4 linked regions of the Homo sapiens genome follow. The protein of the gene in region 1 interacts with the protein of each later gene in a biochemical or structural test. Each region holds a gene or a part of one and is shown in the gene's direction. Other genes may lie near its edges.

Region 1 (3,500 bases):
TTCAAATTGATAAGAAAAGTCTGAGCACATAATCTGATTAATGAATTCACAAAGGGTCTCTCCTATTATAGGCCCTGACTTCTGGTTGGCTTTTAACTGGTGTGTTGGAGCCAAGTAAAGCCACCCCCCTTTCCCACATATGGACTATTTATGGTTATTCAAGAGTAAACACTTGGAAAGAGGCCTATTGGTATTTTTTACTATCTGGTTACCTCCAACTTTGTATAAGCTAAATAAATATAACACAGTGAGCCAATTTGAAAATCTCGAAGAGGCAGTAAGATGGTTGATTTGCAGACCAGAGAGCTAGCTTGCATTTTCATTTTTGCAGACCATATACATAAGCAGTGTGTGGCTTTGGTGGTTTTCCCACATTTATATATATTTATTTACATATACAAATGTTATTAAATAGCCTCTTTGAAAAGGAGAACCATATGCTGTTAGAGCTTTTTGCTACTCTTAGAGTTTCATATGCAGCCTCTTTGAGCAGTTTTGAAGAAAAAAAAATACTGCTATTATAAATTACCTCAATATCATTAATAAAAGTAATATAACTTAGAACATTATTAAGAATAAGTATTTTCAGTTTAATGAAGTCATCAATAATGGCATTTTCAGTTCTGAAGGAAAATAATTACAGCTGTTGATTGATAAAAAAATACATTTAGCTCAAAAATGAGATAGTTTGCTATGCTGATGTTATTTTTACAAAATCTAGAAACAATATTTTATTTGGTTTCTGCTTTCTCTGAATTTCACTGGCAACCATGCATTCCTGGAGGAAAAATCTTTTTCCAGTTGTAGAATATTCCCCAGCCTGCTTCACAAAGATGTTATGAGGCTGCATGTTTACACATGGCTGGATTTTAGCCAGACGTTTTGTAAAGTCATTTGTGATATGTGTGATATGTCTGAATATAAGACAGAAAAATGTGAACCTACAGGTAGGTAGCTTTGTAGCTAAATAGTTGGAAATGGTGGTTTGACTAATGAATCTATATCTGCGTGGATTTTTAGAAGCTGCTTTCTAAATATAATAGAACTTCAGAAGTTCCATTCTTGACCCTGTATTATTCAATACTTTTACCAAGGACTTGGATGACTACCAAATTAATAGATGTTGCAGACTTGGGAGAAAGCAAGTTTGTGTGTGACATCTGTGCATTTGGTGACTGAATTCTGAAAGGTGTTAATAGGTCAAAATCAACAAAATTCAAAATAGTATTTACAACTATCAATCCTAAGTCAATAGGAAGAGGAAAGTCTTGCCTAATGTGGATTTGTGTGAAAAAGATGTAAGAATTTTAGGTGATCATAAACACCTAACTCAGAGCCTGTCATATAACAGATGGTCAGAGGATGTTGGTTTCATCTCAGACCGATTCAGAGAAGAACTCTAATTGTGATAAATGCTAAGAATCATGCTCATCTCTTGTAACTAAAGAAATAATTGAAGTTAGGTGTATTTTCTAAGTGCTGTTACATACCCAAGGATCAGTCACTATACTTTTTTTGAGATTATAAAGGTGAATACATAAATGTTATATGAGTATTGAATAATGCATTAGATATACATTATATTTTACTTTTAATGGTAAAAACCGTAATTACTTTTGCACCAACCTAATATTTCTGTGCTGAAGAATTAGAGTGAAATTACAATTAACCTGGTTTTCTTTCAGGTAAAAGTCACTTATCTAAAATAAGTTTGTATACCTGAAATGTGCTACTTTCCTTAAAATAACAATTTATTTTCTCTAGCTTAAGTGTATTTAATTTGGAAGAAGCAAATTTGTAATCTAGTAAAACTTAAATTTCTGTTCCACTAGAATTAGTATTTATTTCATTAGCACTTGCCCCATGTTAATCTGTTCATTCTCATACTGATCCCATGAAGTAAACACATTTTACAGATGAGGAGACTCATTCAGACAAGTTCTATAATTTGCCTAAGTTATCAGTTAGTAAATGGTAGTACCTAGGACTCTAATTCAAGACCGTCATTAAAGCCCGTGATCCTAGCTACTATTCTCTCCTTGATGCTAGTCACTGTAAGTTAATATTAGAAACTCTGTTTTTAAATGTCTTTAATGTGGTTTTCTTTGTAAATAATGATTGTATAGCATTCTCACCATACTTAGCACTCTCACAATACTTAGTTTCCTGTGGAAATGTCACATAAACATTCCTACAAATTGGAAAAATAAAAGGTTGTCACACTTCGGTCACAATTCTTTTTTTCTAGGTCAACAACTACAATATCAGCAATGTGTCCCATAACTATGCCCGAGCTGTCCTTTCCCAGCCCTGCAACACACTGCATCTTACTGTGCTTCGAGAGAGGCGCTTTGGCAACCGAGCACACAACCATTCTGATAGTAACTCTCCACGAGAAGAGATTTTCCAAGTGGCTCTTCATAAACGGGACTCTGGTGAACAGCTTGGCATTAAATTGGTGCGAAGGACAGATGAGCCAGGGGTTTTTATTCTTGACCTGTTGGAAGGGGGGTTGGCTGCCCAGGACGGCAGGCTAAGCAGCAATGACCGAGTGCTGGCCATCAATGGGCACGACCTGAAGTATGGAACTCCGGAGCTTGCTGCCCAGATTATTCAGGTAAACCCTCTTGGCCTTCATTCCAAAGGCTTGGCCGAAATGATCATATAGTAGTATTTGTTTTCACTGGCCAATAACATCAGAATTCAGGGGACATTTTATATTTCATTAGAAAATCGGGTGTGGCTACCTGAATTCTTTAAAATCCACACTAGTATAACTTCATTGGAGATAGTCTTTTCTAAAAACTATATCCCTGTGAATTTTGGGGATGGTTATTTACAGAGCGTAGGCTCTACTGTTTCACATTCATTTCTCATTTGGGTCCTGGGTTCTACTATTAAGCCAGATGTAGCAGATGATATGTCCACCTTTTAGAAGTGAGGAAAGGGAGGCTCAAAAGAGCTGTGATTACCAAGGATCTGACTTACCTGGTCTCTTAACTCCCTGTCAGGATCTATATAAATAGAGGAAGAATAACTCTTATCTCTATAGTGCTTTGTTGTTGTTTCTAAGGAATTCACAGTGTTTAAAATACATGATAAAATTTGTCCTCATAGCATCTTTGTGACATAAGTAAGGATAGTCATTATTAGAGAAAGAACATGTTTTTCATAAAAGCATGAAGATGGATAAGTTGGAAAGTCATCCAGAGGAGATCTATACATTCTGCAACATGCCATAGCATTTAATGATATGAGCAACTTCTACAGTGATAAGGGTGCAACAAAAAGATGTTTTTCTTAAAGTTAGCAAAACAAAACACTGTAAAGGAAACCAAGAATTATGTAATTGAGGATCAGGAAGTAGGGTAGGCCGATAGTCATTGAAGAATGTGTTTACAACACAGAATCAAATAACAATGAAAATTTAAGACTATAAGAAAATTCAAGTCTCAACTCTCTTTATTGTATTGAGAGGAGATTCTGATATTGGTCTAATT
Region 2 (2,687 bases), on another chromosome or scaffold:
ACAGGGAGGAACCAAGATGGGCATCAGGAAGCTTCCAGAACAGTGAGCATAGGAGGGCCGGAGGGGCAGTGTTGAGGGGCAGGGACTAGGACCTGGATCCTTGTGGCTTTAGCTTCCTGGTCTATGGACCCCAGTCTCTAAGCTGGGCCGGACTGGGTGGCACTGGCTCAGACCCTGTCATCAGAGCCACCTCTGCTGCCACCCTCCGCCTGCCGGGGCAGAGGAAGTCTTAGGTCCTGGTCCAGGCTCACCTGCTTCTGAGAGTCTTGGGGCTGAGTCTGAGTGGCCCCGAGGGAGCCCCTCGCTCCCCAGCATCTCACCTGTCCGGCTTCTCCTCCGCAGGCCCTGCGTCTTCCCAGGTGACCACGCCGGCTTCAGGACATGCACGGACACAGCCGCAACGGCCAGGCCCACGTGCCCCGGCGGAAGCGCCGCAACCGCTTCGTCAAGAAGAACGGCCAATGCAACGTGTACTTCGCCAACCTGAGCAACAAGTCGCAGCGCTACATGGCGGACATCTTCACCACCTGCGTGGACACGCGCTGGCGCTACATGCTCATGATCTTCTCCGCGGCCTTCCTTGTCTCCTGGCTCTTTTTCGGCCTCCTCTTCTGGTGTATCGCCTTCTTCCACGGTGACCTGGAGGCCAGCCCAGGGGTGCCTGCGGCGGGGGGCCCGGCGGCGGGTGGTGGCGGAGCAGCCCCGGTGGCCCCCAAGCCCTGCATCATGCACGTGAACGGCTTCCTGGGTGCCTTCCTGTTCTCGGTGGAGACGCAGACGACCATCGGCTATGGGTTCCGGTGCGTGACAGAGGAGTGCCCGCTGGCAGTCATCGCTGTGGTGGTCCAGTCCATCGTGGGCTGCGTCATCGACTCCTTCATGATTGGCACCATCATGGCCAAGATGGCGCGGCCCAAGAAGCGGGCGCAGACGTTGCTGTTCAGCCACCACGCGGTCATTTCGGTGCGCGACGGCAAGCTCTGCCTCATGTGGCGCGTGGGCAACCTGCGCAAGAGCCACATTGTGGAGGCCCACGTGCGGGCCCAGCTCATCAAGCCCTACATGACCCAGGAGGGCGAGTACCTGCCCCTGGACCAGCGGGACCTCAACGTGGGCTATGACATCGGCCTGGACCGCATCTTCCTGGTGTCGCCCATCATCATTGTCCACGAGATCGACGAGGACAGCCCGCTTTATGGCATGGGCAAGGAGGAGCTGGAGTCGGAGGACTTTGAGATCGTGGTCATCCTGGAGGGCATGGTGGAGGCCACGGCCATGACCACCCAGGCCCGCAGCTCCTACCTGGCCAGCGAGATCCTGTGGGGCCACCGCTTTGAGCCTGTGGTCTTCGAGGAGAAGAGCCACTACAAGGTGGACTACTCACGTTTTCACAAGACCTACGAGGTGGCCGGCACGCCCTGCTGCTCGGCCCGGGAGCTGCAGGAGAGTAAGATCACCGTGCTGCCCGCCCCACCGCCCCCTCCCAGTGCCTTCTGCTACGAGAACGAGCTGGCCCTTATGAGCCAGGAGGAAGAGGAGATGGAGGAGGAGGCAGCTGCGGCGGCCGCGGTGGCCGCAGGCCTGGGCCTGGAGGCGGGTTCCAAGGAGGAGGCGGGCATCATCCGGATGCTGGAGTTCGGCAGCCACCTGGACCTGGAGCGCATGCAGGCTTCCCTCCCGCTGGACAACATCTCCTACCGCAGGGAGTCTGCCATCTGACCTCCAGGCCCGGCCCTCACCACTGCCCACAAGAGCCTCTGCCGGGGGTGGGATGCCAGGACACCCCCTCCCACACTCAGGACAGAGCCAACCCTGGCTCCGTGGACCTTCTGGAGGAAGGTGGGGGTTTCAAAGACTGGGGGACCCCTTCCTCCTGACTCCAGCACCCAGGCCTGGGAAGAGCTCGGCCCCGATCAGCCTGAGTTCCGCCAGCGCCTACTTCTGGTGGCTCTAGGTCCCCGGATCCACCACCCTTCCCCCACTGACTCTTCAAGGACGTGCCCTCTTTGCTCTCAGAACCTTGGGGAAGGTGGCTGGACTGCTGGGCGGGGGACATCTCGGGGTTTCAGGGTGGGCAGGGGGTTAGTTTGGGGAGGGGGGGGTGCGTTTCTTTTGCATGACTGTGGCCTGTTGCTCATGACTTTCTTTTGTAAATATCTATAAATGGAGACAGATGGAGACACCAAATTCACTTTCTGCCGTTTTTACCTGCTGGACAGGGAGATGCAGTCCCTCTCTGTGCACCCCTCCCCACCCAGCCCATCAAGCCTAGCGCCTTCCCCTGCCCAGCTGGCTGGCCCCTTGAGGCCCTCAACGCCAGCCACCTTGGCCCTTGGATGGTGTTGGGTTTGGGTGCAGAGGAGGGACTCTGAGGGGTGGGATGAGGGACCATCCCTCCCTCCCTGCAGTCCCTCCAGCCCCGGGCCCAGCCCAGATTGACAACAGAGTTTGTAACCATATATATATATATATATATATATTTTTTTTTTATTTTTTATTATTATTTTTTTTTCTTGAGACGGAGTTTTGCTCTTGTTGCCCATGCTGGAGTGCAATGGAGCAATCTCGGCTCACTGCAACCTCCGCTTCCCAGGTTCGAGCGATTCTCCTGCCTCAGCCTCCTGAGTAGCTGAGATTACAGGCATGAGCCACCATACTCAGCTAAGTTTTGTATTTTTAGTAAAGAT
Region 3 (4,108 bases), on another chromosome or scaffold:
GAGAAGAGGGCAGGAGGGAGGAGTAGGGTGGGCACGGCAGGGCACAGGGTGCAGGGCAGGTGGGTTCAGTTTGATTTCAAAGCCGACTGCCCGCCGCCCCAGGTGCTCTGGTGTACCCAATAGGGGCTGCATTGGCCAGGCGGCCTAGGCTCTGCGGGTGGAGTGAAGATTTCTCTACCTCCCAGTTTCTCCCTTTTCAGCTCTGGTAGGAGAGAGGAAGAGTGAAGAGGAAGTCAAAAGTTCTGTTCATCTGGAAGGGCTGGGAGTTGCTTCCTGGGATGGGGAGCTCCGAAGCCAATTCAGAAGACGGCCCCGGGGTCTGGCGGGGAGGCCCACCGCTGCCCAGAGGGCTCGGCCGGCCGGGAGGGGGCGCTGTGTCCTCCCCACGCCCTGCCCGCGGGCTCCTAGCAGCGTTCGCCGCGCTGCAACGCAATGCGCGCCCGGCTTTCCCCTGGGCAGCGTTCAGTGCCCGCTTGTCCTGCAGGGCACCGCCGTCTCCCTTTCATCCTGGGGCTCCCAGGTCCAAAGGGTTCCCAGATCCAGCCTCTTGCCTGAACCAAAGTGGCCAGGCACTCAGTTTGTAAGATGAACAAATGAAGGAAAGAAGGAACGAATGAATAAGGGCTCATCTTGCAGAGCGTTCGCGTCTCAGCGCGCACCAGGCACATCAGTGCCAAAGGTGCTGGGGGTCGGGCCCAGCGCCCGGCGCGGCTGGAATGGGGGCGGCGAGGAGCTCCTCCTAGCCAGCCGCAGGGCGGGAACTGCCCAAACGCAGGTCGCAGCCTCACTGGGTTCCGCGGCGGCTCCGCTCAGTAGGGACCGCCCTGTTCCCTAGCCCCCAATAGCCTCGCCCTCATAAATTCACCTGAGCACCCTGGCCCAAGTCACCCCAGATCCCTGGGACTTCCCAGGCCCCGACCTCGGCCGGGCGGGAGGCTGATCCTTTACCGCGGCCCCCTTCCCCCATTCCCGGCTTCTCCCCGGGCTGCGGCGGCCGCCACTGCTGCCAGCGCGCCCCGAGGACTGCCGCAAACCCCGGGCGCAGGGAAAGGGGATCCTGGCGGCGGGACACAGAGAGCGGGCCGGGGGAAGGGGAGGGAACGGAGGAGGCGAGGAGGAGCTGGGAGGGAGCCGAGGGGCGAGGCGCGGAGGAGGGACCGAAGGGGAGCGGAGGGGAGAGGGAGGGGGAGGAAGGGGAGGGGACGAGCTGGGCGAGGGGGCGGGGAGCCGAGGCGAGGAGCGGCGCGGACCGTGGGGGAGGTGGCGGGGGCGAGGCCGGCAAGAGGCGGCCGCGGGCCGGGCTGCGTCGGGAAACGGCGGCCAGACTTCCCCGGGAAGGGGCGAGCGAGAGCCGGGCCGGGCCGGGCCGGGCCGCGGGGCCGGGAAGCGCCGAGCCGGGCATCTCCTCACCAGGCAGCGACCGAGGAGCCCGGCCGCCCACCCCGTGCCGCCCGAGCCCGCAGCCGCCCGCCGGTCCCTCTGGGATGTCCGTAGGACCCGGGCATTCAGGACGGTAGCCGAGCGAGCCCGAGGATGGGAGGGCACCCGCAGCTCCGTCTCGTCAAGGTAACAGCCCGCCGGCCATCCCTCGAGCGCTGGCGCCCCCGGCCCCTGGCGGACGCGGGACGGGGCTGGGCTGTGGGTGTGATGGGGGCGGGGGCGCTGGGAGAGCCGTGCTTAGGTCGGGGAAGGCTGGGCTCCGGGGCAGCCTAACTCTCTGGACCTTTGGAGCCAGGGTTGGGTAGGCAGGGGGAGACTCAGGTGAGAAAAGAAATCGTGGCGAAGCCGCCGGGATGTTGGCGGAGGAGGGGGTCCGCCCACCCGGGTAGCCGGCTCCGCGCCAAGAATCGCTCTAGGCTCTCGGGCAGACGCCTAGGGGAGGGGAGGTTCCACCTCCCACGCCCTTCCTGCAGACCTCGGCCCCGGGACTGGAGACTCTGAAGCGGGGTTCCCACCTCGCCCCAGCGCCCCCAAACAGCTCCCCGACTCCGCACGCCCCCGCCCTAGTCTTGGGAGCGCGTCCTGCCCCTTCCCCTCCGCGGCGAGCTGCGAGTCCGGAGAGATGAATGCCGCCCGCGCCTGCGAGCCCTTGATCAATATCGCAGTCTCGGGGGAGGAGACGGTGCCTCTGGCGGCAGTTCCTGTTCCCCGACCGCGGCTGGGAGCGCGACGCTCGTTCTCCGAGCCTGGGCACCCGCGATCCCCGCGCTGCGCGGCCGACCCTGCGACGCGGATCGGGCGCTGGAGTTTAGGAAAGTAGCCAGACCGCACGTCCAGCGTCTGCCCGCTGAAGTTCGTGGGCGGTGGGGGCGGCCCGCGGGTTGTGTGAGCCAGGGAAGGGCCGGGAGGCCGGCAGTCCGGCCCGCCGCTCGTGTCAGGCGTCACTTGCAGCCCCAAGCGCTTTCCAGAGCGTTTTGGTTTTGCAGGGTATAGGCGCGCCCGCTGCAGCCGGCCGGAGAGGCGGGTGGGCCTCTGCGCTGCTGCCGGGACACCCCGCTTCGCGCCAGTCTGGGCATCGCCTCACCCGGGGCTCGGGACTCCGCAGGGTCCGCTCCAGCCACAAACATAGACACCAGCTTGACCCGGCTCAGGGCATTCAGAGCGATTACATTCAAGAGACTTCGGTGGATTTGGGGGAGGGGTGCGGATTGGCGGAATTTCATTTTTCCATCAGTTATTAAACCAACTGTACGTATACCGGCTTACCAAGTGGTTTGAGTTAAACCACCAAGATTTTTAAATGCAGCAGCTGCTGCTTCCTTAGTTGAGACGTTACAAGTTACTGAGATTTTTCTCTAATCCTGCCCCTCCCCAAATATTTATAAATTGATTCTTAAAATGATCAAGGGTTGGTCTTACTGAACCCACATCCCCTCCCCCATCCGTTACCTGAGGGCTAGGGATGAACTCAGATTATTTTCTGGGCGTTCGAGGAGACAGACAGGTGAGGAAGGTAGAAGAAAAACATCCAGAGAGGTCGAGTAGTTGGCACTGAATGGGAATAGTTTCCAAAAGGCTCGCGTGTACCGAAGCCTGGTCTAAATGCACAAACCAGTTAGACCAAATTCAGTCTTTTAAATGGATTCAAAGAACTGAACTGCGGGTGTTTTCTTTTCTTTTTTTTTTTTTCAGGTTTACGCGGAAATAGATCAATGTTCTTTTTCTGGCCTTTCATAGAATTGTGTGCAAATCTCTGTTTAGAATGATCATGTTTTCCTTAAAAAAGTCTTTTTATTTCCTTTGTTCCTACTAGATGGTGGGGTGTTTGCCCTTTATGCCTGGCCTAATAAACTCAGTAGGCATTCAATAAATTCCAGATGAATGTGGGGCAGTGAGTGAATGGCCAGCGAATGCTGGTTTCAAACGTTGGTTACAATTAAATAGTTGCTTTTCTTCTTTTATTTATGTAGCATGTACAATTCACTGGGCATTATTCTACCTGCTTTGCAAATATTAAGTCATTTAGTCCTCCTAACAGCCCTAGGAAGTAGGAATTATTCCTGAGACACAGAGAGGCTAAGTAACTGGTTCAAGGTCACACAGCCAGTGAGTAGTGAAGTCAGAATTCAAACCCAGACACTCTGATAAAAGGCTTTGTTTTGTTTGCTTTTACCAGAAAATATCCTTTTTTTTTTTTTTTTTTTTCAAGACAGGGTCCCACTCTGTCGCCCAGGTTGGAGTGTAATGGTGTGATCATGGCTCACTGAAGCCTCAACCTCCCTAGGCTCTGGTGATCCTCCCACCCCAGCCTCCAGAATAGCTGGGACCACAGGCATGCACCACCACACCCAGCTAATCTTTGTATTTTTTGTAGAGATGGGGTTTCCCCATATTGCCCTGGCTGGTCTCAAACTCCTGGGCTCAAGCGATCAGCCAGCCTCGGCCTCCCAAAGTGCTAGGATTACAGGCATGAGCCACCATGCCCGGCCATTACCAGAAAATATTCGAAGCCACCTAAATCTCACTCTAGAGCTCAGCCAGATGAGAGCTCAGGTAGTTTTGTCAGCATGAGAGTACAAATCTAGGGGATTTAGGGTTAATCCCAAATCCAGCTCCATCCCCAACAAGTCAGCCAGTGTTGGGAAAGGGTCCACTCTGGGGCCTATAT
Region 4 (2,749 bases), about 15 Mb from region 1:
TAAACATAAGAAGGCTTGTGACTCTTATCACCCTCTATAGAATATAAAGACTAAAAATAAAAACTATTACCTCTGGGCCTGTTTTTCTTTGGGATTAGATAAAGCCTTTCTACCATATCACCAAATACTCATAAAGGCTAACACAGAAAGCTTTTCCAAGTTAATAATTTCTAAAATTAAATATCAGGGCCAGGTGTGGTGGCTGACACCTGTAATCCCAGCACTTTGGGAGGCCGAAGTGGGTGGATTACCTGAGGTCAGGAGCTCGAGACAAGTCAACATGGTGAAACCTCATCTCTGCTAAAAATACAAAAACTAGCCAGGCATGGTGATGCACACCTGTAATCCCAGCTACTCGGGAGGCTGAGGCAGGAGAATTGCTTGAACCCAGGAGGCGGAGGTTGCAGTGAGCTGAGATTGCACCACTGCACTCCAGCCTGGGCGACAGAGTGAGACTCTGTCTCAAAAAAAAGAAAAAAAATCAAAATAATTGTAATTAACTGAAATGCCCTGTTCCTTCATTCACTTGATAGACTTTTCTACCTGCTCTATACTTGGCACTCAATTAGATTCTGGGGATACAGATAAAATAAGACAAAGCTCCCATCTGGTAGAGTCCAAGTTTGTTTTCACAGTTATTTTTCCACAGTCTGTTTAAGGTATTAGGAGGACTTTTATAAACCGAGTGTTTTTCAGGTTACTTCAGAGAGGAGTCTCCTTCCACCCAAAAAAACTAACCAAATTATTTTATCATAAAGAGGTAATCCCATTTTTATGTCCACAATTTTTACATTTTTGTATCAGCCACCAATAATTTTGACTGTTTTGTCAAGTACATATTTCATCAATCCTATTTCCACAGCCGTACATGTGATCCCAGTGACTGATAGATCTGTAGAATGTGAACTCACATTTAAAGTTTATTTTGGGAAGGCATATATGCCTTTTGATGACACACACACCAAAATATATAAGAGCTGTGCATGGTAAACCCACAGTAGAAGGGAAAAAGTAATGCTTTCTGGTATACTTCAGAGGCTCCATTTGAAGATGTGCGTTGATGTTTCCTTGATTATTTTGAATGAGGAGTAGGCGGTAATATTTAACAGGTAGCATACGTATCTAAGCATATAGTAAATATTACTAGTACTTGTGTGCCATGAGGCACTAATACATAGGTGAAACAAAAATATTTTTAGTTCTAAAAAATTCTCTAGATATTTATGGATGGTTAGGCAATAGGGTTCCTTCATGAGAAGGAAAAAACTGTATCTTTATTGTCAGTAAGTGTGGAAAAAAACCCGACTTGTATGTGTATTCACAGTTTGATAGGCATATTTTGAAGTCATTGTTTTCCATCAGTATTAAGTATCATCCATTTCTATGTTCTCTAGCAAAAGAAAATTCTTAGTGTGATACAGCTTTACTCTTTGTTTGACTTTGTACAAGGTCCACAAAAGGAGGAGGCTCAAAAGATTGGACACTTTACCCTGACATTCAGCACATTCATTTTATCTTTCGATAAAGATAACCAGAAATCATTTGCCTCTTGTTTATTATCATGTTGAAAACACAACAGTATAGTTCCTTTTGTCCCTTACATTGGAAAAGGTATTTTAAATTTAGCCTTGCCGTATTATTTATAGTTAGGAATTTACTACATTTTGGTAGTCTGTTTTGAAACTAAGCACTTGTGTCTGAAAGATGCAGATAATATCTATCTATTTATTACACAGTGGGCTCTGTTTGCTGCAGAAAAGAGTGAAACTTTTAACTGCTTAGCACACTTGCCAGTGAAATATACCTGACAGAGCAGAGGTTATAACTTTGGCTCTAATTACTTTTAGTAATGGTAAGACAACGTGAGTTTTGTTTGTTTACATGCTGTTTACAATGGCATAATTTTAAAAATATATACAATTGAGATATTTATTGCCTACTATTTTAAAGATGTTTTATGTGTTTTCACCTTTGGAATATATTGTTACATTTCCTTGTACAGATAATTTTGGTGGCTTTGTTAATGTAGCTAGTAATTTTTATGACTACTAAGTGACCAGTTTTCGGTGCCTTTTATTGTGGGATGCATGATTATGTATTTATTGTACGGAAGTCACTGACGTGTGTATTTTTGTACTTTGCTGAAAGTAATGGTTGATCCTGATGTACATGATGATGAAAGACATCTTTCCCAAAGGGCACTGCCTTGAGATCATCCTTCTCAAATAAAAAGAATGCATTTGAAGAAAGTGTGAAGTCTACGTTGTTTCTGGTGGGAAATCTTTTTTAAAATTAAACTTTTAATTTTGAGACAATTGTAGATTCACATGCAGTTGTAAAAAATAATGCAGAGAGAGCTCGTGTACCCTTTACCCATTTCCCCTCCAAAGGTAACATCTTGCAAAGCTGTAGTACAGTATCACAACCAGGACATTGAGATGCATAAGGTCACAATGCTGAACAGTTCTATCACCACAAGGACCCGTAATACAGATCCCTCATGTTTCCCTTTTATAGGCATACCTACTTCCCTCTTGCCCTCACACACTTCTTAACCCCGGGCAACCACTTCTATACTTTTATCATTTCAAGAATATTACATAAATGGAATCATACAGTATGCGATTTTTTTTCACTTTAGAATAATTCCCTGGAGATTCATCTAAATTGTGTGTATTGATAGTTCATTTCTTCTTATTGCTGAGTAGTCTCGCATCTGGTGAAGGAATTCTTGATTGTAAGAACATAA

What was found. Proteins that work in one complex are often made in the same cells at the same time.
Region 2: the proteins of LNX2 (region 1) and KCNJ4 interact in a test that uses a peptide from one of them, tested with the Homo sapiens proteins (one large-scale study listed by IntAct).
Region 3: the proteins of LNX2 (region 1) and CRHR1 interact in a test that uses a peptide from one of them, tested with the Homo sapiens proteins (one large-scale study listed by IntAct).
Region 4: the proteins of LNX2 (region 1) and DGKH interact in a test that uses a peptide from one of them, tested with the Homo sapiens proteins (one large-scale study listed by IntAct).

The regions. Positions count from the first base shown.
Region 1 is NC_000013.11:27,561,530-27,565,029, reverse strand, and holds part of LNX2 (ligand of Numb protein X 2), read left to right. Parts: intron 1-2,248; coding exon 2,249-2,617; intron 2,618-3,500.
Region 2 is NC_000022.11:38,425,827-38,428,513, reverse strand, and holds the end of KCNJ4 (inward rectifier potassium channel 4), read left to right. Parts: intron 1-342; 5' UTR 343-381; coding exon 382-1,719; 3' UTR 1,720-2,187; downstream 2,188-2,687. UniProt on the Homo sapiens protein: Inward rectifier potassium channels are characterized by a greater tendency to allow potassium to flow into the cell rather than out of it.
Region 3 is NC_000017.11:45,783,012-45,787,119, forward strand, and holds the start of CRHR1 (corticotropin-releasing factor receptor 1 isoform 2 precursor), read left to right. Parts: upstream 1-1,308; 5' UTR 1,309-1,533; coding exon 1,534-1,566; intron 1,567-4,108.
Region 4 is NC_000013.11:42,240,648-42,243,396, forward strand, and holds the end of DGKH (diacylglycerol kinase eta), read left to right. Parts: 3' UTR 1-2,249; downstream 2,250-2,749.